4 linked regions of the Homo sapiens genome follow. The protein of the gene in region 4 interacts with the protein of the main gene of each other region in a biochemical or structural test. Each region holds a gene or a part of one and is shown on either strand. Other genes may lie near its edges. The genes, in order: L3MBTL1, FLI1, FBXL6 and ETV6.

Evidence for each region.
Region 1: the proteins of ETV6 (region 4) and L3MBTL1 form a complex in vitro, tested with the Homo sapiens proteins (one study listed by BioGRID).
Region 2: the proteins of ETV6 (region 4) and FLI1 form a complex in vitro, tested with the Homo sapiens proteins (one study listed by BioGRID).
Region 3: the proteins of ETV6 (region 4) and FBXL6 form a complex in vitro, tested with the Homo sapiens proteins (one study listed by BioGRID).

Annotation. Positions count from the first base shown.
Region 1 is NC_000020.11:43,503,387-43,510,697, reverse strand, and holds the start of L3MBTL1 (lethal(3)malignant brain tumor-like protein 1), read right to left. Parts: upstream 3,002-7,311; 5' UTR 2,954-3,001; intron 1-2,953. UniProt on the Homo sapiens protein: Polycomb group (PcG) protein that specifically recognizes and binds mono- and dimethyllysine residues on target proteins, thereby acting as a 'reader' of a network of post-translational modifications.
Region 2 is NC_000011.10:128,689,680-128,697,081, forward strand, and holds the start of FLI1 (Friend leukemia integration 1 transcription factor), read left to right. Parts: upstream 1-4,392; 5' UTR 4,393-4,579; coding exon 4,580-4,597; intron 4,598-6,233; exon of another isoform or gene 6,234-6,344; intron 6,345-6,780; exon of another isoform or gene 6,781-6,800; intron 6,801-7,402. UniProt on the Homo sapiens protein: Sequence-specific transcriptional activator. Recognizes the DNA sequence 5'-C[CA]GGAAGT-3'.
Region 3 is NC_000008.11:144,355,459-144,362,864, forward strand, and holds the start of FBXL6 (F-box/LRR-repeat protein 6), read right to left. Parts: upstream 3,015-7,406; 5' UTR 2,990-3,014; coding exon 2,574-2,989; intron 2,329-2,573; coding exon 2,170-2,328; intron 2,045-2,169; coding exon 1,981-2,044; intron 1,664-1,980; coding exon 1,532-1,663; intron 1,458-1,531; coding exon 1,350-1,457; intron 1,256-1,349; coding exon 1,142-1,255; intron 1,074-1,141; coding exon 842-1,073; intron 757-841; coding exon 510-756; intron 221-509; coding exon 73-220; 3' UTR 1-72. Other genes in the region: SLC52A2 (solute carrier family 52, riboflavin transporter, member 2), read left to right, coding at 3,836-3,965, 4,165-5,035, 5,132-5,255, 5,345-5,557.
Region 4 is NC_000012.12:11,645,215-11,652,689, reverse strand, and holds the start of ETV6 (transcription factor ETV6), read right to left. Parts: upstream 3,017-7,475; 5' UTR 2,563-3,016; coding exon 2,530-2,562; intron 1-2,529. UniProt on the Homo sapiens protein: Transcriptional repressor; binds to the DNA sequence 5'-CCGGAAGT-3'. Plays a role in hematopoiesis and malignant transformation.

The sequences.
Region 1 (7,311 bases), on a different chromosome or scaffold from region 4:
CGCCTCTAATCCCAGCACTTTGGGAAGCCGAGGTGGGTAGATCACCTGAGGTCAGGAGTTCAAGACCAGTCTGACCAACATGGTGAAACCCCATTGCTACTAAAAACACAAAAAAATAAAAAAAAAATAGCCAGGTGTGGTGGCAGGCGCCTGTAATCCCAGCTATTTGGGAGGCTGAGGCAGGAGAATTGCTTGAACCCAGGAGGTGGAGGTTGCGGTAAGCCAAGATCATGCCACTGCACTCCAGCCTGGGCAACAGAATAAGACTCCACCTCAAAAAAAAAAAAAAAAGAAAGAAAGAAAGAAAGAAAATTATAAAACATAATTCCCTGAATTTCAATTCCAATTTGCTTTGCACAGCTGAAGTACTTGTACTATTTTAAATACCTTTAGAGTTAGGCTGGACGTGGTGGCTCACGCCTATAATCCCAGCACTTTGGGAGGCCAAGGTGGGTGGATCGCTTTGAGCTCAGGAGTTGGAGACCAGCCTGGGCAACATGGTGAAACCCCATCTCTACAAAAAGTACAAAAGTTAGCCAGGCAGGCCATGCGTGGTGGCTCACACCTGTAATCCCAACACTTTGGGAGGCCAATCACTTGAGGCCAGGAGTTCAAAACCAGCCTGGACAACATGTTGAAACTCCATCTCTACCAAAAGTACAAAAATTTAGCTGGGCATGGTGGCACACGCCTGTTATCCCAGCTACTCAGGAGGCTGAGGCAGGAGAATCCCTTGAACCCAGGAGGTGGAGGTTGCAGTGAGCCAAGATCGCGCCACTGCACTCCAGCCTGAGTGACAAAATGAGACCCTGTCTCAATAAATAAATAAATAAATAGAGTTAATCTTTTTATTTGAAACACTGGCAGTTAAGAGTGAATGTGGTTACTTCTGAAAGAATTTCACTCTGTGTCAAAACCTGTCACATCTCAGGTCTATTGAAGAAGCTGGATTTGAAGACTACGTTTCTGTTTGGGTTCGCTGCCTCTTTTCCAGCAAGCATGGGAGGACCAAGTAGGTGTCACCACCATTCTGTGCTCTGGGGTTACAGTCACAAACATGACAAAATGCTCTCATGAAGCTTATATTCTGGAGATAATGGATGAGGTTGGGGCTGGAGGTATAAATTTGAAGACCAGCATGTGTAGATGGCATTTAAAACCACAGAACTGGGGCGAGGCCTGGTGGCTCATGCCTGTAATCCTAGCACTTTGGGAGGCCAAGGTGGGAGGATCACTTGAGCCCAGGAGTTTGAGACCAGCATGGCCAACATAGTGAGGCCTCAGCCTCAACAAAAGATTTTAAAAATTAGCTGAACATGGTGGTGCACCCCTGTGGTCCCAGCTACTGGGGAGGCTGAGGTGGGAGGGTTGCTTGAGCCTGGGAGGTAAAGGCTGCAGTGAGCTATGATCACACCACTACACTCGAGCCTGGGCGACAGAGCAAGACCCTGTCAGAGAGAAAGGGGAGGGGAGGGGAGGAAGGAAGGAAGGAGAGAGAGAGAAAGAAAGAAAAAAGAAAAAACCACATAACTGAGTATAAAGAAAAAAGTGGGAACTTTGGAGCACACCCACATTTATAGGTTGGGAAGAGGAAAAGGGTCTAGCAAAAGGGACTGAGAAGGAGTCTGCCATGAAGTGAGGGGGGACTCAGAAGAGTCTGGGTTTCTGGTGGACACTGAAGAAAGTTTTCAGCCTTCTGCCGTCAGCCTCTCTTGGAACTGCTCTGAGCCTAGGGAGCTACCTCACTTGAAGGCTCTCCTAGAAGCCGCCAGCCAATGACGAGTTGCTATGAGGTGTAAAGACCCCACCCCCTTGCCTTACTTTGGAACACCTCTGCAGGGCCATCTCAGTTCCAGAGCTTCCATTAGGTCAGGCTGAGGCCTCTGTTGAGACTACATCAGCAGTTCAGCTTCTTCTTCCGCCCAACCCGTCATTCCCCTACTGGTGATATTCGCAAGAGCACTCCGATAAACCTACACTCAAATCTTGCTATCGGAGTCTGTTTCGGGGGACCCGACCTAAAACAACCATTGTAGCCCCAGCCCAGAGCCGTGCACATAGCAGATGCTCAATAAATATCTGTTGGCTGAATGTGTCCATGGGTATTTTCTCTTGATGTCTGACAAGGTTTTCTCAATCCCTTGCCTTCCAAGGCCTTGTATACAAAAACGACCAATAAATGTCCTTACTATAGGTGTTGGGTGGGGAGTAGAGCCCTCGACAGCTACCCAGAAAACAACACACAGCAAGGCTGAGCGCTACAAACTTGGGGCCTCGGCCCCGCCCCTCGCCGCAGCTGCTTCCCGGACTCGGGAGGGGACGGAAGCGGCCCTGAGCGCAGGGTTCCAGGATCGGGACCCGCCACCAGCCTCCCGGGACTGGTATAGGCAAAGGCGGGCGGGGCGGTCACTGATCCGACAGTTCCGCAGAACGGTTACTTTTTAAAACGCTAAAATGGCGGAATTCTTTTTATTCTTTCTCTTTATGGCCAAAAAAAAAAAAAGAGAGAGAAACAAAAAAAATTCCATATTCCATTATAAAAATCCAAAATTAATGGTAGGAAAGTTTGCCAAATGACTCATTCATTTCCCAAGAAAACCAAAACCCCGCCCTCCACACCTTTCCATTAATAAAAAAACTCTTAATTGATTGCGTATCTCCAAACACGCAGCCTCCACCCTCCTCGCCCCTCCTGATCGCAGCCCGAAGCCACGCCGCAGGGTCGGCTGGGCCTGGAGTCCCGCACCCGCCTGGCCCCCTGCGCGCTCCGCCCAGACCGCTTTCCCCGGCGTTTTCCCGAACCTCCTCCCCAGCCCGCGCCCCCCGCCGGAGGCGCTCGGAAGGAGCGAGACGCCGGGGCCGCAGACCTGAGCCCTCGCCGCCCTGGACGGAGCGGGGTGGCGCGGCGCCCAGGGGACGCAAGGTCTGAGCCCACGCACCGCTGGTTGCTTACCTGCCTGGCCAGCCGGTGGCCGCCCAGCGCCTAGCTACGGTCCGAGCCGGGCGCCGCGCGCCTGCGCGTTCGGGGGGCGGGTCCGCCTCCCTGCAGGACGCAGAGCGCGGGGCCCGAGCGCCGGGCACATCTGCCCGGCCCAGGCGCAGGCCCAGGCTTCTGTGGCGCCCGCGCCCTCTTGCCTGCCTTCGAGGCCCTGGTTGTGCGCGCCTCATGCCCCCTCAACCTAGGACAGGTTTGCCGCACGGGCGTGGCGGGTCGAGATTTTTCCTGCCCCCGAACCCCTGCATCACAGCTAGCAGAGCGCAGCGGGGGCGCAGGGACCGCGGAGCTCGAAGAGAGAGCCTGGAGGGCTACCGAGCTGAGTGGTTAGTGACAAAAGACGAGGCTGCACCCAGGCATGCACCCCAGCCGAGTGTCTGCTCTGTCCAACGCCTTCCCACCGCGCCTGCCCTCACCCTGGAGGGGAGCTCAGGAGCGTCAGAAAACGGCCTCAGGAAGGGTGAAGGGCACGTGCGACCGGAGAGAGGAACCCTCGTGCGGGGACTCTGGTCCTGGCCCTGCCGGGCATAAAGAGCGGCATTAGCCGCGTCTACTTTTGGGTGACCCCACTGCGAAGGGCTGGGTAACATCAGTATCCCCCAGGTCCTCCATTTCGACATTGGTAAAGACTATCACCCACTTCATGGCGTATGGTCGTTTTCAGTTTGGGTTCCTGTGGTGGTGTAGCAATCACTGCCCCTCTCTGCTTCACTTTGACTGATCTCTTCGCCTCCACCTGATCTCTCTAATTAATCAAATCTCCTTGTTATTGGTTCTGGTAACACAAGATACCTGTCTCGCTTACACATACCACAGCTGGCACTTCACATAGATTTGAGTAATTCCAGAGGCTAAGAGGTTTCAAGCTCCAAGAGGGTAGGAAATATTAGTTTTTGTATTCCTAGTACCTAGCCCAGAGCGGGGCACAGAGTGGGTGCTTAATAAATATCTGTTGAGTGACTAAATGATGTAGGGTATGCAGATGAAAACAGGGTAACTTTTGGTACAGTCCACCATCCAGCCCCTCTCCCACACCAATGATTTAATTTAATCCCTTGATTTTACTTGGCCTTAAGTCATGGCCACATGTCAGACCACCAGGCTCCTGATTCCCTCCCAGGCCAGATGAGAAAAGGGTTCCTAATGAAATGTAGGCAAATTCTCCAAATTGCTGTGATCGACAGGTTTAAATTTATGCAGAATTTAACTATTCCGGTTGCCACGCCAACGCATTGCATGTGTTCTTCCTTGCTGCAATGTCAATTTTTAATCACATCTCATATTATTGGGAACAGGATTGCATCAGTTAAGGATGCTGGTTGCCATAACGATGGATGCCTTTTTCTACACATTGATACATACACAACCATCCGCTCAGTATTCTCTCATCTCAACCTAGACTGTGCGTGATCTAGATTTCAAAGGTTTATTTTAGGTATTCAGAAGATTAAAAGAAAGTGGTGAACCTACACAAACACATGGATTCTCAAAAACAAAGGCATCTTTTAGATGGTGATTAAGACGGATAAGTGGAATTTGAGCTAGCAAGACCTAGAAACAAACAACTAACATGGATGTGAGTTGCTAAGACATTATTTTTCTGGCTATCGACAGTATTTTTGTGCCTCACGCCTGTAATCCCGGCACTTTGGGAGGCTGAGGTGGGAGGATTGCTTGAGCCCAGGAGTTTGAGACCAGCCTGGGCAACATGGCAAAATCCTGTCTCTACAAAAAAAAAAAAAAAAAAATTAGCTGGGTGTGGTGGCGCATAACTGTAGTCCTCCCTAGCTACTAGGGAGGCTGAGGTGAGAGGGTCGCTTGAGTCCAGGAGCTCAAGGCTGAAGTGGGCCATGAGTGAGCCACTGCACTCCAGCCTGGGCAACAGAGAGAAATCCTGTCTAAACAAACAAAAAATCTCTCTCCTCACCCAAGAAAAAAACTGTATTTTTGTGGTCTTGATACCTGGCTTGTTGGCTTGAACAGGGGTCAAACAAACAAACCAGGTATCAAGATCACCAAATCCTGGGGTGAAGAGCTGCTACCACGTTAATATGATTTGGAGAAGTTTCTGCCTCATGAAGCCAGAGTTTCCCCTTCCAGTACCAGTCTGCCTTCAGGAGCAAGTAAGCAAGTCCAGTCCTCCCCTCAAGTGATAGCCCCCTCTTCACAAGTTCACAGCCCCCATTGTCTTCTCCATGTTAACCCCCTGCTCAAGCATGGACCCAAAATATTTTGAAATATTGATGAGTCAAAGCACTGAGAAGACTGTTGTTTACGCCAGGCATAGTGGCTCACACCTGTAATCCCAGCACTTATGCCAACGTGGGAGGATTGCTTGACGCCAGGAGTTCAAGACCAGCCTGGTCAACATAGTAATGAAACAAGAAAAGTTCCCTTATCCCCCTAGCAGGGTGTGTGACAGCGGGGGAGTGGCTTGCTTCCTCAGTGCCCTGCAACTCAAACCCTAGGGGGAGCATACAGACGGGCAGGTAGTGGGGAGCGTGGGCTCCAACCCCACAGCAGCATCTAGGGTTGAGTATTTACAGCTCCCGAAGCCTCAGTAGACGTGTGTTACTGTGTGCTCTTCAGTTTAGCCGTCCGTAGACAGCTCGTTTTAATCAGCTCAATTAGACCCTCTGCCTTATTGAAAGGACAGAGAGTTTTCTGTATCCTGGGTTCTTGCCCTAGTGTACTGGAAAAATCAGATTACACATGGGCTTGGAGAATGAGTGCAAGGTTTTATTGAATGGTGGAGGTTGCTCTCAGCAGATGTATGGGGAAACAGAAGGGGAATGGAGTGGGAAGGTGGTCTTCCCCTGGAGTTGCCTGGCTCTCCTTCAACCACCCTCAGCTGAATTTCCCTAGGCATCCGCATCCTTCTGCAGTTGATGGCCTGTCAGCGTCCGTGTGTTCTTCTGATGTGTTCCTCTCCATATCCAGCCATTTGTATGTGTGCCCACTAGGGTATTGGGGTTTATATAGGCACAAGATGGGGGGTGTGCGGGCCAGAGTGGTCTTGGAAAATGCAACATTTGGGCACAAAAACAGGAGTGCCTGTCTTCACCTGGGTCCATGGGTGGGGCCCTCACCAGGGACCCTGCCTTTCTCTACCCAGCACTTCCCTGCCCCACTCCTGTATCAATGACAGACCCCCTCCAGTCTCTACAAAAAAATTAAAAATTAGTTGGGTGTGATGGCACATGCCTATAGTCCTGGCTACTTGGGAGGCTGAGATGGGAGGATTGCTTGAGCCCAGGAAGTCAAGGCTGCAGTGAGCTGTGATCATACCACTGCACTCCAACCTGGGCAATAGAACAAGACCCTGTATGTAAAACAAACAAACAAAAGAAAACTGTTGTTTCTAAGCAGCCCACACCATTCTGTTCCTACAATAGAGTTTCATTCACCATTGAGACTGTCTGCAGATTTTTAGGGAAATCATCAGGATGTGCCCTTTATGTATAAAAACACTTCTGGTTCCAACGTCAGACTGAGCTAGTATGGAACGTTTTAAAAACTTTTTTTATTTTTATCTTTTAAATGTAGTTACATAAAATAGAGACAGGGTCTCCCTGTGTTGTCCAGGCTGGTCTCAAACTCCTAAGCTCAAGGGATCCTCCTGCGTTGGCGTCCCAAAGTGCTAGGATTACAGGCATGAGCCACCGCGCCTGGCTGGGAACCTTTTCTAACACAAACACCAGAAAACCCTGCCTATTATATTACAAGAAAGGAAGCAAGCAAGCACACAGGGAAAGAAAGTAAATTCATTGCTGGCCGGGCGCGGTGGTTCATGCCTGTAATCCCAGCATTTTGGGAGGCCGAGGCGGGTGGATCACGAGGTCAAGAGCTTGAGACTATTCTGGCTAACACGGTGAAACCCTGTCTCTACTATAATTATAAAAATATTAGCCGGGCGTGGTGGCGGGCGCCTGTAGTCCCAGCTACTCAGGAGGCTGAGACAGGAGAATGGCATGAACCCGGGAGGCAGAGCTTGCAGTGAGCTGAGATTCTGCCACTGCGCTCCAGCCTGGGTGACAGAGCAAGACTCCGTTTCAAAAAAAAAAAAGTAAATTCATTGCTGAACGTGTAAGAGGAAATCCTCAGGAGTCAAAAACAAAAAGGGAACCAGAGCAATAAGATGTGGCCTGATGTCTCTCTTGTCCTGGAGGTGGTTGTTGGATACAGACAGGACCCAGCTGCTAGAGACTTGGGTTTTACTACACATGTAATGATGGGAGATGGAACCTTGGGTCCATGTGGCCCTGAGAGTTGGAACTGAAGCCCATGTATAAAGACTGGGGGGCCGGGTGTGGTGG
Region 2 (7,402 bases), on a different chromosome or scaffold from region 4:
TGGCCCCATCCCAACGGCCCCATCTTGGATCCGCCACTGGGCGAGGGTCTGGACACCTGGCTGGTCTCCACCTCTTGTCAGCCTGCTCTCTCTGGTCAGGATTGGACTCCCTCGGGGTTTCCTCAGCGACGCCGCGTGGTCTGGGGGCTCGGAGACCCTCCTCCTCCCCAACCCGCCCGCCCCCGGCCCTCCCGCCGCCGCGGCCTCCCACGTAGCGTTCTGAACCCGCTCAGCGCTAAGGCAAGAACCAGCGTGGGGAGCGGGCCAGGCGAGCAGAGGCTCTAAATCTTCCTTCACTCTGTGAGTAGATGAAGTCTGAGAAACAAATTCAAAGCAGGCGCGCCTGCAGAGCCTTCCTGCAGAAATATTCCCCGGCATTCAAGCGCATCCAGGGGCGGCTTGAGCTGCCTTGTTTGGCTAAGGTCAGACGAGACTCGAGTTCTCCAATAAAAATAAATCTCAAATTAATTATGGCCTCGAGCGAGAGGCCAGACACTTGAAGCTGCATTTGTGCAGTCTGGAGTTTTGGCGCTTGCCCGCCCACCCCTCCGGTTTTCTCCCGCCCTCTCCTCCTCCCCCTTTGCCAGCTCGGATACCCGCTGCGGCCTCGCTGGACCAGAGGGGCATGGGAGGGGAGGACGAAGGACGGAGGGAGAGGAGCGGCCCGAGACATTCTGCCAGGCCTGGCATCCTGCGGAGTTTCAAGTGACGGAGCCACCCCTGGGTCTGTTACCCCAGGGACCAGGCTCAGATCGTCAGGTCCGCCCACCCCAAACCCAGTCTGGGGCCGAAGAAGCCCGGGAAGCCCGTGTCTGGAAAGTCTTGACCGGGTCAAAAGGGCTGACATTGAGCGAGCCAAGACACGTTTCGACCCGCCGCTCCCCTCCCGGGGGAAGCAGGACTTCCGCATCTTTGAAAATACTGTCAAGTGCGAATGGTGCGAGGCAAGTCGTCTCACCAGCGTTCCAAATGAAAATGCTCCAAATCCAAATATTTCCTGAGTATTCACGCCCATGTGCACGGTTTCTGTAAGTGACCCCAGACTTGGAAACATGTGGTGGGCTGTTTTGTTGTTGGGACATTTTTTTCTCCAGTTGGTAGCTTTTGTTTTAAATACTGGGAAGAGCTTCCTTGGCTGTGAGCTGCCTCTGACTTGAAAACCAGCCCCGAGCTGCTGGAAAGTGAGCTGTCGCCGATGGCACTCATACCAGCTCCTGTTCAGCAGCTCTGCCCAGTCTGGGAAAGGGCGAGGCCATTGGAGCCATGGTAAGCCAGGAAAGAGGGTGTGCACAAGTGTGTGGGCAGGGGCAGCCTTCCCCAAGCTGGGCCCAGAGACTAAGGAAAGAGGAAGGAGAGAAGAGAGGAGGGAGAGGAGAGGGAAGGGGAGGTCTGCCCCACTAACACAAGACAGTTTTCATTTGTAGGCCCTCACCGCAGGCTCTCTATCAATTTGTCTCAATGCAAACATTCAAAATATCCCCTTTGGCTGCTCGTGAAAACAATGTGAGCTGCCAGGATCAAACCATCTTTCCAGATGTCTGGTGGTAACCACATTAAACAGGGTAGACTTGTTTACTATTGTGCTTGGTTAGGGCGCTTCCCCCATCCCCTTTCAGGATTTAAAAAAGCAGCAGTAGCAGTGGAGTTGACCATCAAACCCTGAGTTACATAAAAGTGGGGCAAACTGACCTACGGGCATGCCAACACTGGATGGAGGAAATCCGAGATTCCCGCAGGCATCTAGTCAGAGTTAGGTGGGGTCTTCTTTCTGGGTGGAGACCTCTGTGAATGGACAGGAGCTTCTCCCAGGGGGCTGAAAATCGCCAACAACAGTGGCACCAGTGCCAGTCTGTGAGTCCCAAAGGGCCGGGGTGCCTGTGTCTATGCATCTAGTGGTGCCTGTGCCAGGCTCTCCACTACCCCCCGCCCATCTCCAAAACCATGAAATTGCCGTAGCTTTGGAGAAACAGAAAGTGCGATGGAGTTCCACAGTTAAAAACTAAAGGGCAAGTCTTCAATTTAATCTAGTTCCATATTGAATAATTCCAGTGGGGGAGGCAGCTGGTGCTGAAAGGAATTGGGGGACAGTATAGGAATGTTCGGGTGACTACTGATTAATGTAGTGAAGATGATCTGTCACTTGCCAGACCAACAGGAGTTGGAAAGAGAAACCTAGCCATGGTGTCTGCCACAGAGGGACCCTCTAAAGTGCTAGGAGGAGGGTGGGGGGCAGTCGCCACCTGTGGGATGCCATGAACAGCCTCTGCAACTGGCCAGCACCAGGAAGGGGGGCCTCCTGGTGGTGGAGTTGGAGTCCTTTCTGGCTGAATGAGGAGCAATGTGGCTGGGGTGTGCGGGTTTCTGGTGAGGTCCGGGTGGGAAGCCGTCTCTCCGCATTCTCCTGAAAGCTCTGTTGTAGTTTGAAGGTCGGTAGAGCCTGGGCTGAAAAGGAAACAATTTGGGGTTTGAAAGGATGTAATTCATTCTTCCTTTCCCGTTAACCTCTTTCCTCTCTGGAAAGCACGTGGAAACGCTGAAGGGAGGAGTGAGAGGGCAGGCAGCCTGCCGCGGGGAGGAAAGGGTTAAGCCTGATTTCTTTTAATTGAACTCCAGAACTGGTGGCCCCAGGCAAAGGGGGGGACTGACCCCGCTAGCGGTAACCAGATGTGGCGGTCCCAGGGGAGCCCCGGAGCAGACCCCTGGATTGAGAAGCAGACAGGAGCGGGGGGAGTCAGCCCGGCCCCCATCCCACCATCCACCCCACCCCCACCCCCAACACGCACACCAAGTCTCAATTGCTGGCAGGCTGCACCCGCCACTCCAGGTCTGGTCACGTTCAGACCCGTGTCTGTATTCGAACCCAAAATTGGAGCCGAATTGATGAGACTAATTTCTAGAGAGGGAGGGGGAGGGAGGGAGACGAGTGAGCTCTCGGGCTCAATTGCTCCTGAAGAAATAAAGAATTAATAAGTCACCTTTTTTCGCCTCTGTGGACACCCTTTTGAAATTTTTTCTTCCAATTGACTTGGATCTCCTCTGGATTTTTTTTCCCTCTTTCCCCCGTCGGACTCTTAAATAAAAGTGAGCAAGTCCAAAGCGTGGTCCGGAGAGCGTGGACAAGGTAACCTGTTTTGGATGTCCGGGAGAAGGGAGTCCGGCCGAAAGGGCCCAGCCCCTCGAGGCTGCTCCAACTGGGGCGCGCGGCGGCCCAGGAGGGAGGCGGGGAGGTCTCCGGGTTGGGCCGGGGAACGCCGGCCTCCAGGCTGGGTAGGGAGGACGGTCCAGAGCGCGGGCCTCCGGGTCTCACCCCGGGAAAAGTCTGGGTCTGCTCTGCGCTGTTGCGTGCTGCGCTCCTGGGACCTGCTGACTGTCCTAGAGGGAACGTCCCGCGGTAGTGTCAGTTCCCTGGGGACCAGGAAGGGCGACTCTTGCCTGGGAGTCAGTGCTTGGGCCGTCGGGTCCGGGTAAGCGCTGGGGGTTTGGCTCGAGAAGATGCGGATAGGTGGCCTAGGGCGCCGCGGATCTCCGCCCTCTGCGGGCACCGGGAGCCCAGGGTCGAGGCGCGCCGCCCCGAGGGGCCCCTTCTCCTAACAATGCGCCCGGAATGGAGTCCGCGCCCTGACAGCGCGGGTCAGCCCGAAACCGCCCAGAATCCGCTTCGATGAGTGGGTGAGCCGCTCTGGGAGTCTGCCGCGTCTCGGCAGCGGAGGGCCTGAGTGGAAAAATTCTTATTGGATGCACTTTTTAATGGTTGGTTTGCCTCGGTTTTCGTCCGAGTCTTCCCCGGCAGTAGGCGCTGGGTTACCCGCAGCCCTAGCCAACTCTCCCTCCATACCCCCCCTACCCCACCCCCAAAAAGTTTGTCTCCGGCTGGAAAAAGCATTAATGAACGTATCTGTGGGAAGAAACGGAAAGTGAATGAGTCAGGAGGGCCACCTTCGGCCAACCGCCTCAGGAAAAGCAAAGAAGCCAAAGGTCTTTGGCTTTGGATTTTGGGGGAAGGTGATGGGGGGAGGTTCAGACTTCGGGAATCAGGGCGCGGACGCTGGGCGTGGACCCCGTCATTGTTCCCGGCTAGCTCTTATCTCCCAGGAGCAAGTATCCTGTGTGCGCAGCGCATGAATGTGTCTGGGCATCTCCGCGTATATTTATATAGTGTGTGATGCGAAAAGCAGGACCAGCAGGGGAGGAAGAGGGGGTGTGGGGGGGGAGGGAAGACGAGGGAGAGCAGAGGGGAGAGAAGAGAGAGGAGAGCTCGAGGCGAGAGAGAGAGAGAGAGAGAGAGAGAGAGAGAGAGAGAGAGAGAGAGAGAGATAGGACTTCCTCCCCGATTCGCAAAGTGAAGTCACTTCCCAAAATTAGCTGAAAAAAAAGTTTCATCCGGTTAACTGTCTCTTTCGCTCCGCTACAACAACAAACGTGCACAGGGGAGTGAGGGCAGGGCGCTCGCAGGGGGCACGCAGGGAGGGCCCAGGGCGCCAGGGAGGCCGCGCCGGGCTAATCCGAAGGGGCTGCGAGGTCAGGCTGTAACCGGGTCAATGTGTGGAATATTGGGGGGCTCGGCTGCAGACTTGGCCAAATGGACGGGACTATTAAGGTAAGCGGCGGGGCAACGGACGCGGGCGGCGGGGACCGGCCGGGGAGGCGAAGCGGCGGGCGGGTAGGTGCGGGGCCCGCGTCCCGGAAGACGTGGCCTCTCTCCCTTCCCTCCGCGCCCCGGCTTCGCGCCGGCTCCTCCGGCGCTCGGGTGGCGAGTCCTACTCGCGGGCCAGCCGGCCAGGCGCCCGCATTGAGGGCGACCCTCCCCCGAAATCCCAGCCCCCAAAGTGGAGCCCCGGCCCCCCTCCCACCTCGCTGCCCGCCGGGGCTGCAGGAGGGGACGGCGGGAAACCGGGGGACCCCAGGGTACGGAACGGAGTCAAGGGCGAGAGACCTCGGGGTCCACCACTCCCACCGACACCCGGGGCTCCCGTGGCCCCAGCGCTAGGCACTGGGCTTCCTCTCCGCAGAGGCGGAACACGGCGGGGGCGGGGGCTGCAGTCGCCCGGGCTCGGGTCCCTGCCTGGTGGGCCCTGGGGTGGGTAAGTGGCCTCGTTGCACGAGGGTAGGGGTGCAAGTGAGTGTGTCGGGGGATCTATCTGAGCGGGCTCCTCCAGATGGAAGCCCCTGTTTACATGTCAGCGCTTTCCCTTCCTCTCGGCACTCAGTCGCCCGGCTCTAGGCGCTGGAGAGCCGCCGGCTCCGCGGGACTCCTGGGCCGGCCTCGCCGCCTCTCCGGCGGGGAACCTTCCCCAGCCCCCGTCCGCACAGATCCCTAGCGCCCCGAGCCCCCGCCCTTCGCGCCTAGGCGTGCGCCGGCTCCAGGACCAGGGCTCCTGGAGCTGTCGCCTCCGAAAGGGTCCTGCGTCCTTCGGAGCCGCCTCCGTTGCAGGGGCCGGCTGTGAGCCCGCGCCCCGCGCCCGCCCGGCCATTCCCACCCCAGCCGCCGCCGCCAAGCCTGGGTCTAGGTTGCAAAGTGCAACCCAGGCGGAAAGGTGAGGGTTTGGGTTCGCGTCTCACTTCAGAAAAGTTGACTGCTGTCTCTGAAAGGGTTCGCCAAGTAGGGCCAGGAGCAGAGAGGAGGGACACCCCCTAACGTGACGGGCCTTAGAGGACCTAGGGGAATGAATGGGACCAGGGGTTAGCTTCGAGGCTGCCGCGCAACACCAAGCGGGAGTCTGTCTGGAAAAACTATTAGGCTGGCGAGGTGGGGACTGGCAGAGCCCGCCATTCCCCAGAACCCGAAAGAATCGACTCCCTGCTCAGGGCTCAGCAAGAGAAGGCTAAGATGTTGGGCTCAGAGAATTCAAGAGATTTTTATCTTCTGGGTGGGGTCGTGGTTTTTATTTTCTAAGTTTTTTTTATGAAAGTTTGAAATATGCTGACTTAGGTAAAAGACACCAACCGAAGGAACTTGCAAATCTGGAGATGAGATAACTGACTGTGATGGGTTAAAGGGAGCTATAAGAGCCTATAAGAGCCTGGGTTCCTCAAACCCAAAGTGAGTAGGTGAGAAGTAGGTGAGAGGGGATTCCTGCAAAGACCCGAGAGTGGGGGTCATTGGGCCATTTTATGCCTGTTTCTCTGCTTCCTGTTGATGTGTTCATGCAAGTGTCTCTGTATTTCTGGGTTTAGTAATGAGATGCTCCCCTCTAGAAAACTCCCTCGCCCCAATCAGGACAGTTACCACTTACTCTGAAGGCCTCTTCTGATCCAGAAGGGTGGTAAGATGGCCTCAGGGTCTTGATGTGGACACCCTAAGGAAAAGTGAAGAAATATCTCCACACTGCTTAAACTCTACGCACAGGCCCTGAGCAAAAGGAGGAAGCTGTGGTCTGTGTACCCAGGATGTGCTAACCTCTTTAGATACACACAGGGATTGGCATGGCAGGCCTCGAGAACAGGCTTAGAGCAGGAACCTGACACTTCAGGCCAAGGATGGGAGTGAAAGTCCTTCCTTTTTTTGTGGGTGGTAGGAGCCATGAGCTCCTCCAAACCCTCCCTGTGAGCAACCTGTCATTCACCTAAGTTACCTGGCTAGGCTGAGTCCCCACAGAGCTACCTTCAGTCTCCAAGCATTCTGCAAGATTGAGCCTTTAGTGTGTGTGTTGGTGTTTAAGTTGTGTGAAAGCCACAGTTTTCTGTTCGCATGTGACCTCTGGATCTTGGGGTTTCCAGATCCTGTTCCCACAATAGTTCAAATACTGTGCTTGGAGAGGACAGTGGACCAGGAGAGAGGCCAGCATTCTTCTGCTCTCTTGGTGAGAATGAACCGTCCATTAAGCCTGTTTGAGATTCATAGTCATCACAAAAATGAAACAGTGGAACTAGGTTACCTCTACAGTAGTATCTAACCAATCTTCTCAGTGCCTAAAATGTGCTCATATGTGTTTACAAGAACACTTGCCTGTATGTGCACTAAATCCAGCCCTACACTGATCGAGGTTGACGACACTCTAGAGAGAATCTAATTTGTGTACACAAATCCAGGGTGTCCATTTCCAGTTTGAACTGCCTGGAAAAATCAGGTTTGAGTGATTCTAGGATGTGATTTTATGCACCTGCATAGTTCTTCCTCAAATATAAGTCATGTCTATATTTCAAAATACCTGTGGGTCTTGGCACTTAGGTGGTATTTGGTGCAGGAAGCCAGGGAAGTCTGGATTTCTTCACAGAAGCCCTTTATTTTGTGCATAATTTGCACAACTCTATGTGATTACAAAATCCCAATCTTGTTGCCCTCCTTATAAGTCCCTCCATATTATATTCTCTTCTCTTTTCCAAGAACGGCTCCTGGAAAGGCTCTGACCGTCACATTGGGAGAAGCAATATTTGCTGGAGCCACGCTACTCTTTTGTCACAG
Region 3 (7,406 bases), on a different chromosome or scaffold from region 4:
GCTCAAATATCTGAAATTGGGCAAAGGTGGAGGGTGGGCAAGCTGGCTGAGGTGTCCCAGGTCTGTGGCTGCCTAGCTGGGTGAGGGGCTGGTGAGCAGCTGCTCCAGACACCACTGGACTTCCTCCAGGCCCCGGTAGGCCCGCTTCAGACCCCGGGGAAGGCAGCGGCAGGACTCCAGGTTGAGGTAGAGCAGGCCCGGGCAGCCGCTGATCACAGAGCTGTGGGGAGGGCAGACCACAGGAAGTTGAGCTGTTGCCTCAGAAGGGCTGGGCCAGGCTAGGGAGCTGTGCCTGCTGGTGTTCGACACCTGGCTCTGCCACCCATAGCCACCAAGGCCAAGCCCAGTTCCCCTGGTGTCCTCAGGCCCACCCCACGCAGGGGCTTGGACAGTATGCATGCCCCTCTGACCCCTGGAGGTCTCAGGCCAGGCAGGACACAACTTCCAGGCCCCAGGCAGACACAGTGACAGCCACACTGGCTCCAGGGACTGGGGTAGGGGATGCTGACCTGACAGTGCTTGGTGTGACCCGGGTGCCCCTGAGGTTAAGAGAGCACAGGGCTGGGTGTGAGCCCCCAGGGGTGCTTAAGAAGGCAGCCAGGGCCTGCTCCAGGTCCTTCTCACTGAACCCCTGGCCACTCAAGTCCAGTTCTCGCAGTGTATGGCACCACTTCTGGGTCAAAAAGGGGCTGCCCTCCTTGGCTAGAGTCAGCCGGTCTGACGTGCCATACAGGCCCAGATGAAGCTGCTCCAGCTCTGCAGTGAAAGGAGTGAGCATAAGCTACAAGGTGACAAGGGCCCCCACACCTCACCCGCCCGGCCACCACCCAGGACTGCTGACCCCGACATGGCAGATCCTGAAGGCCAGCCGGCGTGATGCGCGCACAGCCACGAAGATCCAGTAAGCGCAGGTTGGGAGAGCCGTGGAGTAGGCGGCCCAGGACCTCGTTGCTCACAAAGTTGCAGGTTGAGCTCGCCAGGCAGAGCTCCTCTAGGCTAGGGAAGCCTGGTCCGGGAGCCACCCCTCGTCCCGGAGGCTTGGGCAGCCACATCAGGTTCAACAGCCGCAGCACCTGGGGGCAAGGTCCAGGCTGTAGATGGGGGAGGGTGTGACAGGTGGGAGAGGCAGGGCGCCAGGTACCTGGAGCTGAGGGCAGCCTTTCTGCAGAGCCTCGACAGGCAGCTGAAGGGGAATGCTATTACGGTTGATGCCGGTGCTCACCTCCAGGACCTGGAGCTGGGGGCAGCAGCTGCCCTGCAGAGATGGGGGGAGGGGGTAGGTCACAGGGTCAGTGGCCTGGCAGTCCCCAGCTCAGCATCTGCCTCTGCTCCCACCAATGCCAACTTACCAGCAGTGCGCCCAGGATGGCTGTCGTCTGGGAGCTGTAGGTCAGCCACAACTTGCGCATTCGGGACCCTGCCTCCTCCAAGAAGCTCACCACAGCTGTGGACTCCACCTGGGGCCCCAATACAAGAGCACCCGTCACCCCGGCCTGGGTTTTTTCAGGGCCCCTTGGGACACAGGGCTCACCATGGAGTGCTGTAGGTCCAGGCTATGGAGCTGGCAGCAGGCTTTGGCTAGCATGACCAGAGCGTCAGCAGTCACACCGTGGCAGCCGGAGAGCTTGAGGAAAGTGAGCCGAGGACAGCACTCACCTACCAGCTGCGGGGAGACAGAGGGGCAGCTGGGGTTGGGAGACGACAGGCTAAGATCCACAAGGGAAACAGACAAGTGGCTGGTGCCAACCCCACTCTACCGCCTTAGCTGTGACCTCCTTTCTGCCCATGCCAGGCCTACTTGGGTGTCCCCGCCTCTGATACCTCCCTGCTGGAGGAAACAGCAGGAAAAGAGAACCAGGCAGGCAGGCAGACATCCCCACGGAGCAGCGTTGGGCCCCCAAGGTGCCTGACCCACTTCCTAGAGTACTGAACAGTCCCAGAGTGTCACAGCTGATGTGCAGGACAGCCTGGAGCTCTCACCTTCAACACGGGGTGTACCTGAGACTTCCAGTGGATGAGGGTCAGCCTCTGGAGCTGTGAAAACCTGGGCCGACAGCGGAGGCAGAGCTGCACTAATGTTCCCACACGAGTCCTTCCCACCCAACACCTTGGTGCAGGGAGACGGAAGGAGCCTGGAGCCAGGGGTAAGGAAGAGAGGGAACCCCTCACCGATTGGGCATAAGCCACTCCAGGGAAGCAAGGAGCTTCTTCTCCGCCTTGACCCCGCCCTTGGCAGGCCGGCCGACCAGCGGGGACGACAGGGTCACGGTGTGCCAGAGCGCGGGTTGGGAAGCGGCCTCCTGCCAGCGGCGGCACACGCGCGCAGCCCTGGGAGGACAGCGTGCTGAGGGTGCCGGCCCCTCCGTAGGCGATGCCCCCCTCTCGCAGCGCAGTAGACACCCCGGCTCAAAGCCGGGCTCCTGGGACTCCAACTGGGCGCCTAAGGGGCTGCGCTCTCGGACTGAGCGGTGCGCGCTCCGATGCTTTCGCCCTCCGCCCCCGCCCGGGCCACCGCTCGGACCACGTCTGGCCCAAGCCGCTACGCTCGGCGGCGGGCCCGGCACCAGCGTTACCTGCCCAGGAAGGGCATGGGGCCGTCCGCCGCCACCAACAACCCGAAAATCTGCACCAGGATTTCCAAGGGAATGCGGTCTCCCCAGCCCGCGTCGGGCCCTTCCTCGGGCGTGGGCGTGGGTGCCGGTGCGGGTGCGGGCGCGGCCGCCGCCTCGGACCTGAGCCCGGCCTTGGGCTTGGCCGCGGCGCTGGGGCCCCGGGGCGGCTGCCGGGGAGTGCGGCGGGAAGCGCGCCGCTGTGCGCGGGGCCGGGCGGGGCCGGGTTCGGACAGCACCAGCAGCATGCTGTCGGACTGCAGCAGGTGGTACCCCGAGCCCCTCGGCGCCAGCCGGTCCCACCACCAGTCCTCGGCCGAGCGGGGCCGCGGCGCTGCCCGGGCTCTGCGTCGGACCTGCCGGGAGGCTGGGGCAGCCATGACCACCGACGGCGCTCGGGGAAGCCCCAGGGAGCGGAACGGGCGAGGCTTATAGACCGACAACCCCCCGGTTCCTCTCAACGCCCGCCCGCCCGCCGACCAGCTTCCGGGGCGGGACTTCCGGTCGTGGGCCATGCCGGGGGCGGGCCCGGAACCGCCACGGGTGAGTCGGGTCGTGGCTGCTGCCGGGTCCTGCGCGCTCCGGACTGAGGTGGCGTCCCTGGGCCGGACGGCGGTGTCCCGGCGTGGCGGGAAGCCGGCACTGGAGCGGGAGCGCACTGGGCGCGGGACCGGGAGGCGCAGGGACCGGACGGCTCCCGAGTCGCCCACCTGACGGTACCGAGAGGGCGGCGCCCCTCCGAGCAGAGCCGTCCCGGCCACTCCCCTGGGATCTGACTTGGCTCTTGCGGTCGCGGGCACCGTGAAGCCCTGGGGTGTGCGTGGCTCCTCCTGGTAGGCGCCCTTTCCCGGCGTCCGGCTTGGGGTGGTGGTGGCGTTGACTCCAGCCCCGCCTCTCCCTGGAGAGGAGGGCTCCACTCGCTCCTTCGGCCTCCTCCCCTGGGGCCGCAGCGACTCGGGCCGGCTTCCTGCTTCCCTGCCTGCCGGCGGTCCCGCTGGGTACGTTTTAGCCAATCCTCCCCATCTGCGCTCCTGCCCGGGGCTCCCCCAGTTCCCCTGGTCTCACCCTGTTCTGACTCCGGCTCTGCATCCTATCTGTTTCTCTGTTTCTTTCAAGCTAGAAGAAGTCTTCACTTCCCAGGAGAGCCAAAGCGTGTCTGGCCCTAGGTGGGAAAAGAACTGGCTGTGACCTTTGCCCTGACCTGGAAGGGCCCAGCCTTGGGCTGAATGGCAGCACCCACGCCCGCCCGTCCGGTGCTGACCCACCTGCTGGTGGCTCTCTTCGGCATGGGCTCCTGGGCTGCGGTCAATGGGATCTGGGTGGAGCTACCTGTGGTGGTCAAAGAGCTTCCAGAGGGTGAGTGGGAGGGAGGTGCAGGTGTGCCCAAGACTCCTGGGCTGCGGTCAGTGGGATCTGGGTGGAGCTACCTGTGGTGGTCAGAGAGCTTCCAGAGGGTGAGTGGGAGGAGGTGCAGGTGTGCCCAGGAAGGTGGGCTTTGGCACTCTTCCTCCCTTGGGCATCATGACCCTGACATGGCCTCCTCCCTTCCCTGCAGGTTGGAGCCTCCCCTCTTACGTCTCTGTGCTTGTGGCTCTGGGGAACCTGGGTCTGCTGGTGGTGACCCTCTGGAGGAGGCTGGCCCCAGGAAAGGACGAGCAGGTCCCCATCCGGGTGGTGCAGGTGCTGGGCATGGTGGGCACAGCCCTGCTGGCCTCTCTGTGGCACCATGTGGCCCCAGTGGCAGGACAGTTGCATTCTGTGGCCTTCTTAGCACTGGCCTTTGTGCTGGCACTGGCATGCTGTGCCTCGAATGTCACTTTCCTGCCCTTCTTGAGCCACCTGCCACCTCGCTTCTTACGGTCATTCTTCCTGGGTCAAGGCCTGAGTGCCCTGCTGCCCTGCGTGCTGGCCCTAGTGCAGGGTGTGGGCCGCCTCGAGTGCCCGCCAGCCCCCATCAACGGCACCCCTGGCCCCCCGCTCGACTTCCTTGAGCGTTTTCCCGCCAGCACCTTCTTCTGGGCACTGACTGCCCTTCTGGTCGCTTCAGCTGCTGCCTTCCAGGGTCTTCTGCTGCTGTTGCCGCCACCACCATCTGTACCCACAGGGGAGTTAGGATCAGGCCTCCAGGTGGGAGCCCCAGGAGCAGAGGAAGAGGTGGAAGAGTCCTCACCACTGCAAGAGCCACCAAGCCAGGCAGCAGGCACCACCCCTGGTCCAGACCCTAAGGCCTATCAGCTTCTATCAGCCCGCAGTGCCTGCCTGCTGGGCCTGTTGGCCGCCACCAACGCGCTGACCAATGGCGTGCTGCCTGCCGTGCAGAGCTTTTCCTGCTTACCCTACGGGCGTCTGGCCTACCACCTGGCTGTGGTGCTGGGCAGTGCTGCCAATCCCCTGGCCTGCTTCCTGGCCATGGGTGTGCTGTGCAGGTACACAAGGACCCCCAGCCCCTGTGCGGGTGGAACTCAGGGCTAGGAGCCAGGTCCTGGCGCAGTCAGCCCTGACATTCTGCTCGCTCACTGCAGGTCCTTGGCAGGGCTGGGCGGCCTCTCTCTGCTGGGCGTGTTCTGTGGGGGCTACCTGATGGCGCTGGCAGTCCTGAGCCCCTGCCCGCCCCTGGTGGGCACCTCGGCGGGGGTGGTCCTCGTGGTGAGCACAGGGGGACATGAAGTGGGGTGGGGGGGCGTTGCCCTGGAGCAGGCACATCTCACGCTCAGCTGGTGCTGTGTCCCCCTCAGGTGCTGTCGTGGGTGCTGTGTCTTGGCGTGTTCTCCTACGTGAAGGTGGCAGCCAGCTCCCTGCTGCATGGCGGGGGCCGGCCGGCATTGCTGGCAGCCGGCGTGGCCATCCAGGTGGGCTCTCTGCTCGGCGCTGTTGCTATGTTCCCCCCGACCAGCATCTATCACGTGTTCCACAGCAGAAAGGACTGTGCAGACCCCTGTGACTCCTGAGCCTGGGCAGGTGGGGACCCCGCTCCCCAACACCTGTCTTTCCCTCAATGCTGCCACCATGCCTGAGTGCCTGCAGCCCAGGAGGCCCGCACACCGGTACACTCGTGGACACCTACACACTCCATAGGAGATCCTGGCTTTCCAGGGTGGGCAAGGGCAAGGAGCAGGCTTGGAGCCAGGGACCAGTGGGGGCTGTAGGGTAAGCCCCTGAGCCTGGGACCTACATGTGGTTTGCGTAATAAAACATTTGTATTTAATGAGTTGGCATTAATTCTTTGAGCACATCTCTCTGTGTGGATGCTTCCCTGAACTAGAGCCATGGCCTGGCCTGTTTAACAGGCTGCCTCTCCCCAGGCCCTGGGCAGGTCCTTACCCACCACAGGCTGGTCTCACGGATTGTACAGTCATGCCCTCTGAGCCCAGACTACCCCACATTGCTTCTTGGAACTGCCCTGGGCTCTCTGGGCCCACACGAGCTACCAGCTTCGGTGGTCAGAGGAGTAGAGGAGCCTCTTCCCGGCAAGGCCACTGCTCCACGAGCACCTCTCAAGGGCTGAGGGTTAGTCGGATGGGGCTGCGATGTGCCGAGCCCCCTGTCCACCCTTAGCCCTGGAGTGACTGTTTGCCTGCTAGCTTCCCAGGAGTATCCTGCTAGGGATTTACACCAGGGGGTTGGTGTGCAGGCACCGGGGTACTCAGTGAGGGGGACTCAGAAGAGACAGAGTTTAAGGTTTTAGCCCATCGGGACCGTTTGGCCTGAGCATTACCCCACTCCCCTGAGCCTCCACCCTCTCAGTGACAGCTCCTCCTGCAATCAGACCCCCAAAGGCCCCAAACTGTTTCTTCAGGCAGACTTGGCTACAGCTGTCTTCTCCCTGGGCTGCTGGCACACTGCCCCTAGCCCTGAGCAGCCTGGGCCTGTATGTGTTGGCATCTGCAGGGAGCAGGACCTCAGCACTGACCATGGTCTATCCTGGGCTGGGTGGTTCTTGGGCTCCCACAAAAAGAGCTGGAGCTGCAAAGGAACTAACTGAGAGGAGCCCCTGAGCCTGGGAGCAAGGATCTGGAAGAAAGTGCTGGGAGAGACCACGCCAAGGTAGGAGCCTGGCTTTCTTCACCTCGTGGGCCGCCACCCCAGGGAGGCAGGACACCGAACTGTGATCAGTATGACGGGCCTGGCAGCAAGGCCCATTCTCCCAGGCAAGAGGCCCCACTTCTGCAGAAGGGCCCCTGCAGCTACAGGGAGCGTGCAGGCACTGGGGATGGTGGGTCTGTTCCTGCTGCCCAAGCTCTGTCTGCGACGGTTCCGCTCTGCGGAGGCCCTTTCTCATTGTCCTTGAGTTGGCCTGCACACGGGCCTTTGAAGGCCTGGTCTTCCTCCCCACTTCTGCTCCCTCCTGTCTTGGCAGGACCATCAGAGGAGGAAGGAGCCCCTGTGACCCGGAAAGCCTCTAGTCTGGGCCCCATCAAACATCAGGGGGCAGGCCAGCTCCCAGGGGGGCTCAGGACCACCCAACTCTGAGGGCAGAGGCCACTGCCAGCTCCAGCCTTCCAGGATGCTGCCGCCTGAGGCTGGGCCCCTGCCCAGCTGACCCGGCTGCTTCCCTTTGGGGGTTGCAGGTACTGAGGGTTCTAGGGGGTGGGGGCTGAAGGTTGAGTGTGAGCTTCAGAAGTCGCCTGGTAAAAGAAGAAAGCTTCTGAGGGAGGATGAGGACAAGGATGGGACAAGGTGGGTGGTTTGGTGGCATGGCTGTGGGCAACAGGGCTCCTGGTCTCATGCTTGCCCCCTTCCCCTCATCGCTTTGCCACCACCCCCATCAGCACCGGTGCTTGGGGCCTGCCCTCTCCT
Region 4 (7,475 bases):
CTCACCAGCCGCTGAGGAACTGTCTGCCTGCTGACCCGCTACTTGTAAGGAATGAAAGCAAGTGAGGACGGTTTCAGGAGTGGAGAGGAGGACTGGGAAAAACCTCTCCACAGTGAGAGCCTTTTGTGTCACAGGAGTTCGGTATATCAGGTTCATCAGCTCATCCTTGAAAACCTCTGACATTCGTTCTTCACTACACAGAAAAGCATATTGTTTACTGGACTCTAGAAGCAAGCAACTTGCTTGTGGGTTACCAGCAAACATTTTTTATTATGCAGTCACCGTACCACATCCCAAGGACTAAATGAAACGCAGCACACATCACCAGAACATTTCAGATGACCTGGAATAATCCCAGTCCTTGATCTCTAGTGCTTATTATTGGAACACTGAATTAAACAAACTCCATGGAAAGATACTCTTCACATACGTTCACCTAGACACATGCAGTCTAAGCAAATACATACTCGTTCCATAAAGAACGATCCAAAATAAAAGTGATTCTTTCCTTTCTGGTAAAGAACATTAAATCTATTTTAATTACATAGAAGTACACAGTAATGAAAAGAGGCACCCTGAAAGAACTGAGTTGTAAGCAATAAGGAAAAAAATGATATGCAAATTACAGACAATTTTCATGTTGCATTTAAGAACGCGTTTTGCTTGGGATTGGTTCTGTATGTGAGTAAGGCAAGGGACTGTTGTACTCTTTTTCCGACTGGAGCACAATGAAACAAACCACTCAGTAGCAGTCTGCAGCCAGCACACCACCATAAGCCCATCAAAACGGTGGGGATGCAGTATAGAAGAGGATCAAGAAACGTCACAGAAAGCATTGTTTTTTGTTGTTTTTGCCCTAAAGTTACTGATCTGTAGTTGGCAGATTTTCCTGATGTCGGGTTTATTGCCACTGAGCCAAATACAATTTATTTATTGAATATCCTACTATTTAGTTACCTCTATGTTATGAAGCGTCAAATAAATTAGATTATCTATACCGCAGGATTTTCCTGAACTCTGTGTAGAATCTAATTTATACCGCAAAAGAAACTGGTTTTGAAGTATTAATATCAAAGTACCCTAAGTTCTTTAGTGTGGCACGCCCCATGCCCACAGACATACATACTGCTACCTCCAGTTATGTACAAACACAAAAGCCTAAAAGTTCCATTAGGCATTTTTGTGAGGCAAAAACAAAGAAGCCCAAACCACCTTTTGATTTCACATTAGCCTATCCTCAAACCCATGAATATCTTTTCTGATAAGAAACACCAAAATGTGATTCTAATTATAAAAAACCTAGTAAGCACGTATGATGAACTACTGCGTTTCCCCTACACAGACTCTAATTGAAAGGCAGTGTTAAACCAGGAAGGGTTTTTCTAACTCCCCACAGACGAAGAAAACAGGTTATTTGTTCATTGTTGCTGTAGTGTCCATTCAGTGAACACACATTAAATAGGCCAAACCAAAAACAAACTTCAGCAGCTTCAGCCTCTCACAAGAGCGGAAGGCTTTCTACCTGGGTACTGGTGGAACAGCGAAATGAATAAAGTGTACAATAAATGCAGCGATGGGAAAAATAACACGGGTAGATGGATAAATCATCCTGCCTCCCAATGGTGGCAAACTTTACAACAACTTTTTAGAAGCAACAAACCGCAGCACCACAGTCTTTACAGATATATAGACATGCATACACACAACTACTGGGTAGCCCAGCAGTGTGTTTACAAACATCTACCGCCCTGCATTTACAGAGTGCTGCTTAGATAGCCTCTCTGCACTGTCAAACACAGAAGGTCATTTTGCCTGGTTGCTTAGTTCTTCCTCTCCCTCCATCACAGGAGTTTTCTACTTTGGGATTGCTCAACTTTCATATGGATCGGAGTAAAATAACTATTCAGCAACTTTATTCACCTTGGTTTTAAAAAAAAATTCATTGTGCAATGCCTAGGAAAAGCTGACACCAGGACTGTCTCTCCGACAGCGCTTGCAATTACAATCAGACGAGGGGGAAAAAAATCCTGTCTGATCAGACCCAGAGAGTCCTTTAAAAAAATAAAAAGATTCTATCGCAGTGGAAACTGAACAACTTTTTTTCTAAGACGACCACCCCTCGGGAACAAAAGTTATATTTCAGTCACATGTTGGGTGTAGGAATAGGGAGCAGGTTTTTTTTTTTTGTTTTTTGTTTTTTTTTTTTTTAAGCGCACTAATTACGGGGGTGTTTTACGGTTCTGGAGACAATCCGGGTTGCTCTGACCAATTGTGACCGGCATTTCATTGTCAAAAAGCAAGGGGGTGGGGGCCGAGGAGCCGGCAGGGGCTCGGCGGTGGGGGGGAGTAGCAAGGTTACGCTAAAGGGTACAGCAGCCACCGCGAGCTGCATCTCTTTCCCTCTCGCCCCAAATAATTTCCTGCGAACAGAGCAACTGCAACAGCCTGCTCTGAGGAGCCCAGCACGACTGCCCTGGCCGGTGCAGCTCAGGGTTTCCACCACGTAGAAGGAGGGGAGAAGATTTTTACCTTAATGCTACACTGAGCAGGAGTCTCAGACATGTCTCACAGCGAGAGAGATCAGGAAGTTCTCAGGTTTTTTCCACTTTCCTTTCCTCTCCCCAACCCAGAAAGGCTCCACGGCCAGCCAGACGCGGTCATTTAAGAAGTTTCTTCCAGCATCTCTCCCGGCAGCCGCCCCGGGGGTCTGGAGCGCGCGGGGCGGGGCGGGGCGGCCGGCGGAGTTGGGCGCGCGGGGCGGCGGGGGCGTGGGAGACGGGCCCGAGCGCGGCGGCGGGGTCTGCAGGTCGCGGCGCGGCGCGGGGACCCGGGACGCAGCCCGGCCGGCCTCCCGGTCTCTCCTCCCACCCGCAGCCGGCGCCCCCGCCCCCCGCCCTCCCGCGGCTCTCCCTCGCTCTCTCGAATGTTTTCCTTCCTGGAAGAGAGAAACTGAAAGGCAGAACTGAGAAAGCTCTTTGCTCATTGATCTTGAGAGTTTCAGTGCAGAAACTGACGTGAATTCCCAGCACTGAGCTCTGCCTCTTAAAGGAGCCACCAGGAAATAAAAGCTCGGGTTACAGCCCGGCATCGGGGAAATAAAAGCTGCGCGGGGGAGGGGCGGCCGCGGGGGCGCGGGCGGAGGAAACCCGGGTAGCGGGGCCGCGTGGGGCCGCGGCTGCGAGCGGGGCGAGCGGCGCAGCCCCCCAGGCCGGCCCCCGGTGCGGGCGCCCGCCCTCCACGCCGCGAGACCTCCCGCTGGCCGAGCCAATTTCCGGGCTTAAGGAAGACACCTTTAAAAAACGTTACATTGTGGCCCCAGACACCACAAAACAGGTTTTATTAAACTCCTCCCACCTCCCCTGGCTCCGTCTCTTGGATACATCGATGTGCACAAGGGTTTTGAAACGTTTCACTAAGCGCAGATGCAACGAAAGTAATTATCTATGAAGGGCCATTCCGGTTAGGACGCGGAATCCGAAGGAGGAAATAAAACAATAGCCTTTGTTCTGCTTCTCGACCGCTGCCTCTTTAAGAGAATCCACCAGGAAATGGGAGATCGGGTTACAGCCTGCACACGGGGAAATGTGGGGAGAGCGGGCGCCCGAGCGCGACGCCGGAGACAAAGCCGGGGCGGCCGCGCCGCAGACGCTGGGGGACCGTCGGGCGGGGGGATTCCCGGGGAAGGTGGGCGCCCCGGAAAGAGGTGGCGCCACGCGCCCGCTCGGGGATGCGGCGGCCGCGGGCGCTTCCCGAGCCGAGCACGCGCTCCGGGAAGGGAAGGCTGCAGGGCAGTTATCAAAGGCAGCTGAGTTCCTTTTCCTGACCTCCCCCTCCTGTTTCGAAATCCACTGCCCTTTTAAAGAAATAGCGGCCGCTACCAACCGAAATAGGTGACTCGACTACAAAGTTGGCAGGACGTGTTCCTGCAGATAATACCCCTCCCCAGGACCGCTTCTCTGAAACCGTCATTGGCCGGTTGATTGGATGGCCCTGGGATCCTGCAGGGGGAGGAATATTTGGTTGGAAAAGCAGTTGAGGGGGGTTAAGGCCGTTGGGGCTGAAGGGTCTAGCCCTGAGCACAAGTGATCTGATCACTCTATTATTTTTATTATTATTTACACTCTCTTAAAGTGTCCACCACAAAAAACTGAGAACATTATCATTATACTTAAATTCTAACCTTGTTAGCACATATTGGGGGTTTAATATGTGGATGTGTAATGTAAAAGGAAATTTGTTATAATTTCTTAATAGAGTAATATATTAAATATGGTATAAATATGTATATACGCATATATACCCATATATGTTACCTGCACTGGACCAGGACACATTTCCCCGAGTCTCCCCACCCTACAGATTTTTCCTACCCACTTTCCTTCACCTCTTCACATTATCAAATGTGTTGAGACTTGTACACACAATATTTTTGTTCACACATTGATCAGATCATTACGAACGAGGCTAGGGTGGGAAAGAGTGCTGTTGCTGGGATGATGGGAACTGGTGGTTGTGAGCCTCCAGGAACCTGAACAGGTTTTGTCAACTGGTAGTCCTGCCCTCTCTCCAAGAGATCTCTGTCTTGTCCACACCGACTCCTCTGCCTTTGACCACCCCCTTCTCCCCTTTAACAATTTTCTGTATTCTTTTGCTTTTTTTTTTTTTTTTTTAAGACGGAGTCTGCTATGTCGCCCAGGCTGGAGTGCAGTGGTACGATATCGGCTCACTGGAAGCTCCGCCTCCCGGGTTCACGTCATTCTCCTGCTTCAGCCTCCCGAGTAGCTGGGACTACAGGTGCCCGCCACCGCGCCCGGCTAATCTTTTTTGTATTTTTAGTAGAGACGGGGTTTCACCGTGGTCTCAATCTCCTGACCTCGTGATCCACCCACTTCGGCCTCCCAAATTGCTGGGATTACAGGCGTGAGCCACCGCGCCCGGCCTCTTTTGCTTTTCTTAATTGATGTTGCAGACATTGGTTTAGATGTCCCATTGCTAGGTTATGTCTTCCACATCACTTAGCAATGTGATCCCTGACAACACAGTCACTAAGCTTCTGTAAAATGGGGAGAAATAGTACCTAGCTCATAAGATTATCTTATTAAATAAGAAAATATATACAAATGCCTCCTTAGCAGAGAGCTGCACAATATATGTGCTCAATTCAAGTTGGCTACAATTATTATTTAACCCCAGGACTAAATTAGTTCTCGACTTTTCTTCCTAACTCCTCCTCAACGTCTACAAGTGATTCATAGAAGTAGTAGTTTGAAGTAGAATGTTTGTGGTTCCAAAGCAAAAAACATAGTTGACAACTGTAGCAAAAACTACATTTAGACCAGGGGTTGCCAATCTCTGTAAAGGGCCCAGCTGTAAATGCCTTAGTCTTTGTGGGCCAAGAGACAAAATTGAGAATGTCAGGTAGATACTTATATAACACGAAGAAAAAAAAGTCCACAGTTTTTTATTTTGTCAATTCAAAGTGTAATAATAGCAATTTTAATACAGGTATAATAATGAAAGGCATGGAATTCTTTTGGGGGGAAAGTAACATTTCACTTGGTGTTCAAAGTGTTCTTTCATAAAAATTGACTGCAGATGTTCATCTATTAATGCTGATTTTTTATGAGATTTTATGTACTTCATTTTTGAAATGTCTTTCTACCCAGACAGATACCGCCAAATACTGATACCAACCCATGAGCACATGATTTTACTTGAGTGTATTCATTGCTTAGAAGGCATTTCTAAAATTCTATTAGAATTCTATAAATTCTCTTGATATTTCCCCTTTAGCATGCCATTACATTGCAGATTAATCACTTCCAGTTGAAGGTTAAATGGAAGCTTCTCAGTTGCACAGTTAAGTAAATTTTAAATATGAAAATTTCCTTTGCACTTGCATTGAAATTCAGAAAACACTGTTGGTACTGTAGTTTGAGTTCAGAAAAACATAACTGCTGCAAATTTGTGTTGGAATGGAGATCTTGCTTCTTGTTTTAACTTTTGACAGCATGAGAAGTGTGTAAAACAGCTTGACATTATTTGTGATTCAAACAATGTTAGTTGTGTCAAAATGATTTTACTGCAGTTTAAGTTTTGCATATAAGCTCTATTTTGCCTTGTAGTTTTAGGTTAAATTCATAAAGAAACATTATTGAGTCTGTAGTAAAAGCTTATTTGCAGAGCCATTCAGTGTTCAATAACAGTGGTTGAGGGAAGTTTTTCTCATTCATTCATTTCCATTTGTCGCTTGTTTCTCTGTTCCTTGTTTTCTGAGAACTTATGGGTAAATTGGATTTTTTTCTTTCATATTCCATTTAAATTACTAGATTGTCTTTTTAGATTTTCTTCTTTATGTTAAATATGGTGGTTGCTTTAGAAATTACAATTTGCGTATGTTATTATCACAGGCTACCTTTAAATAATATTATTCTATTTTATGAATCTGTAAAAAAGTTACAATGTAATTCCATTTATCCCTCTCCCATCCTCTGTATTGTTGTGTTATATTTTACTTCTATATGTTATAAAATTCATTTTACATTGTATTTTTATGGTATTTAGAAATTTGTAAATATATGCATATAATGAATGTATTAAAGTATGTCTCTTTTTAATTTGCCCAGATATTTATCCTTTCTAGTACTTTTTTATTCCTTTTTGCAGATCTGGTTTTCCATCTGGTATCTTCCCTTTGGCCTCAAGAACTTCACTCAGCATAGCCTGTGTGCTGTTTGTTGGAGAAGTCTCTCAGCTTTTGTCTGCCTCTAAATGTCTTTAGTTCATGTTCACTTTTGAAGGGTATTTTTACTGTACGTAAAATTTTATGTTGACATTTTCTTTTCTTTCAGCACTTTAAACATGTCATTCCTCTTCTGACTTCATATTTTGCTAAAAAATCACTTGTAGTACATATTTTGGTGCCCCTGTGTACAGTGTACACTTTTTTCTGTAGCTGCTTTTAAGATCTGCTCTTTAAATTAGGTTTTCAGAATTTTGACTATGATGTACACAGGAGTGGTTTTCTTTGCATTTATCATTTATTCACCTTGATGTCAGCTGCAGTTATTGGATCTGTGGGTTGGTATCTTTCATTAGTTTTAGAAAATTGTCATTTATTATCTGTTTGAATATTTTTACACCCATTCTGTTTCCTTTTTTTATTCTTAATACAAGTATTAGACCATATATTATTGTTCCATGTATCTCAAATACTCTGTTTTATTTCCTTGTATTTCCTTTTTTTTTTTTTTGAGATCAGCTCAGGCTGGTCTCGAACTCCTGTTCTCAAGCAATCCTCCTGTCTTAGCTTTCAAAGTGAGATTACAGTGCTAGCCACCACACCTGCCTTGTTTCAATTTGAACGCTTTCTACTTATTTCTTTCTAAGTTTTCTTCCTCTGATTTTTTCCAATTTACCGTTAAGCCTATGTAATTCATTATTTACTTTCTTGCTCTGTCTCCCAGGCTGGAGTG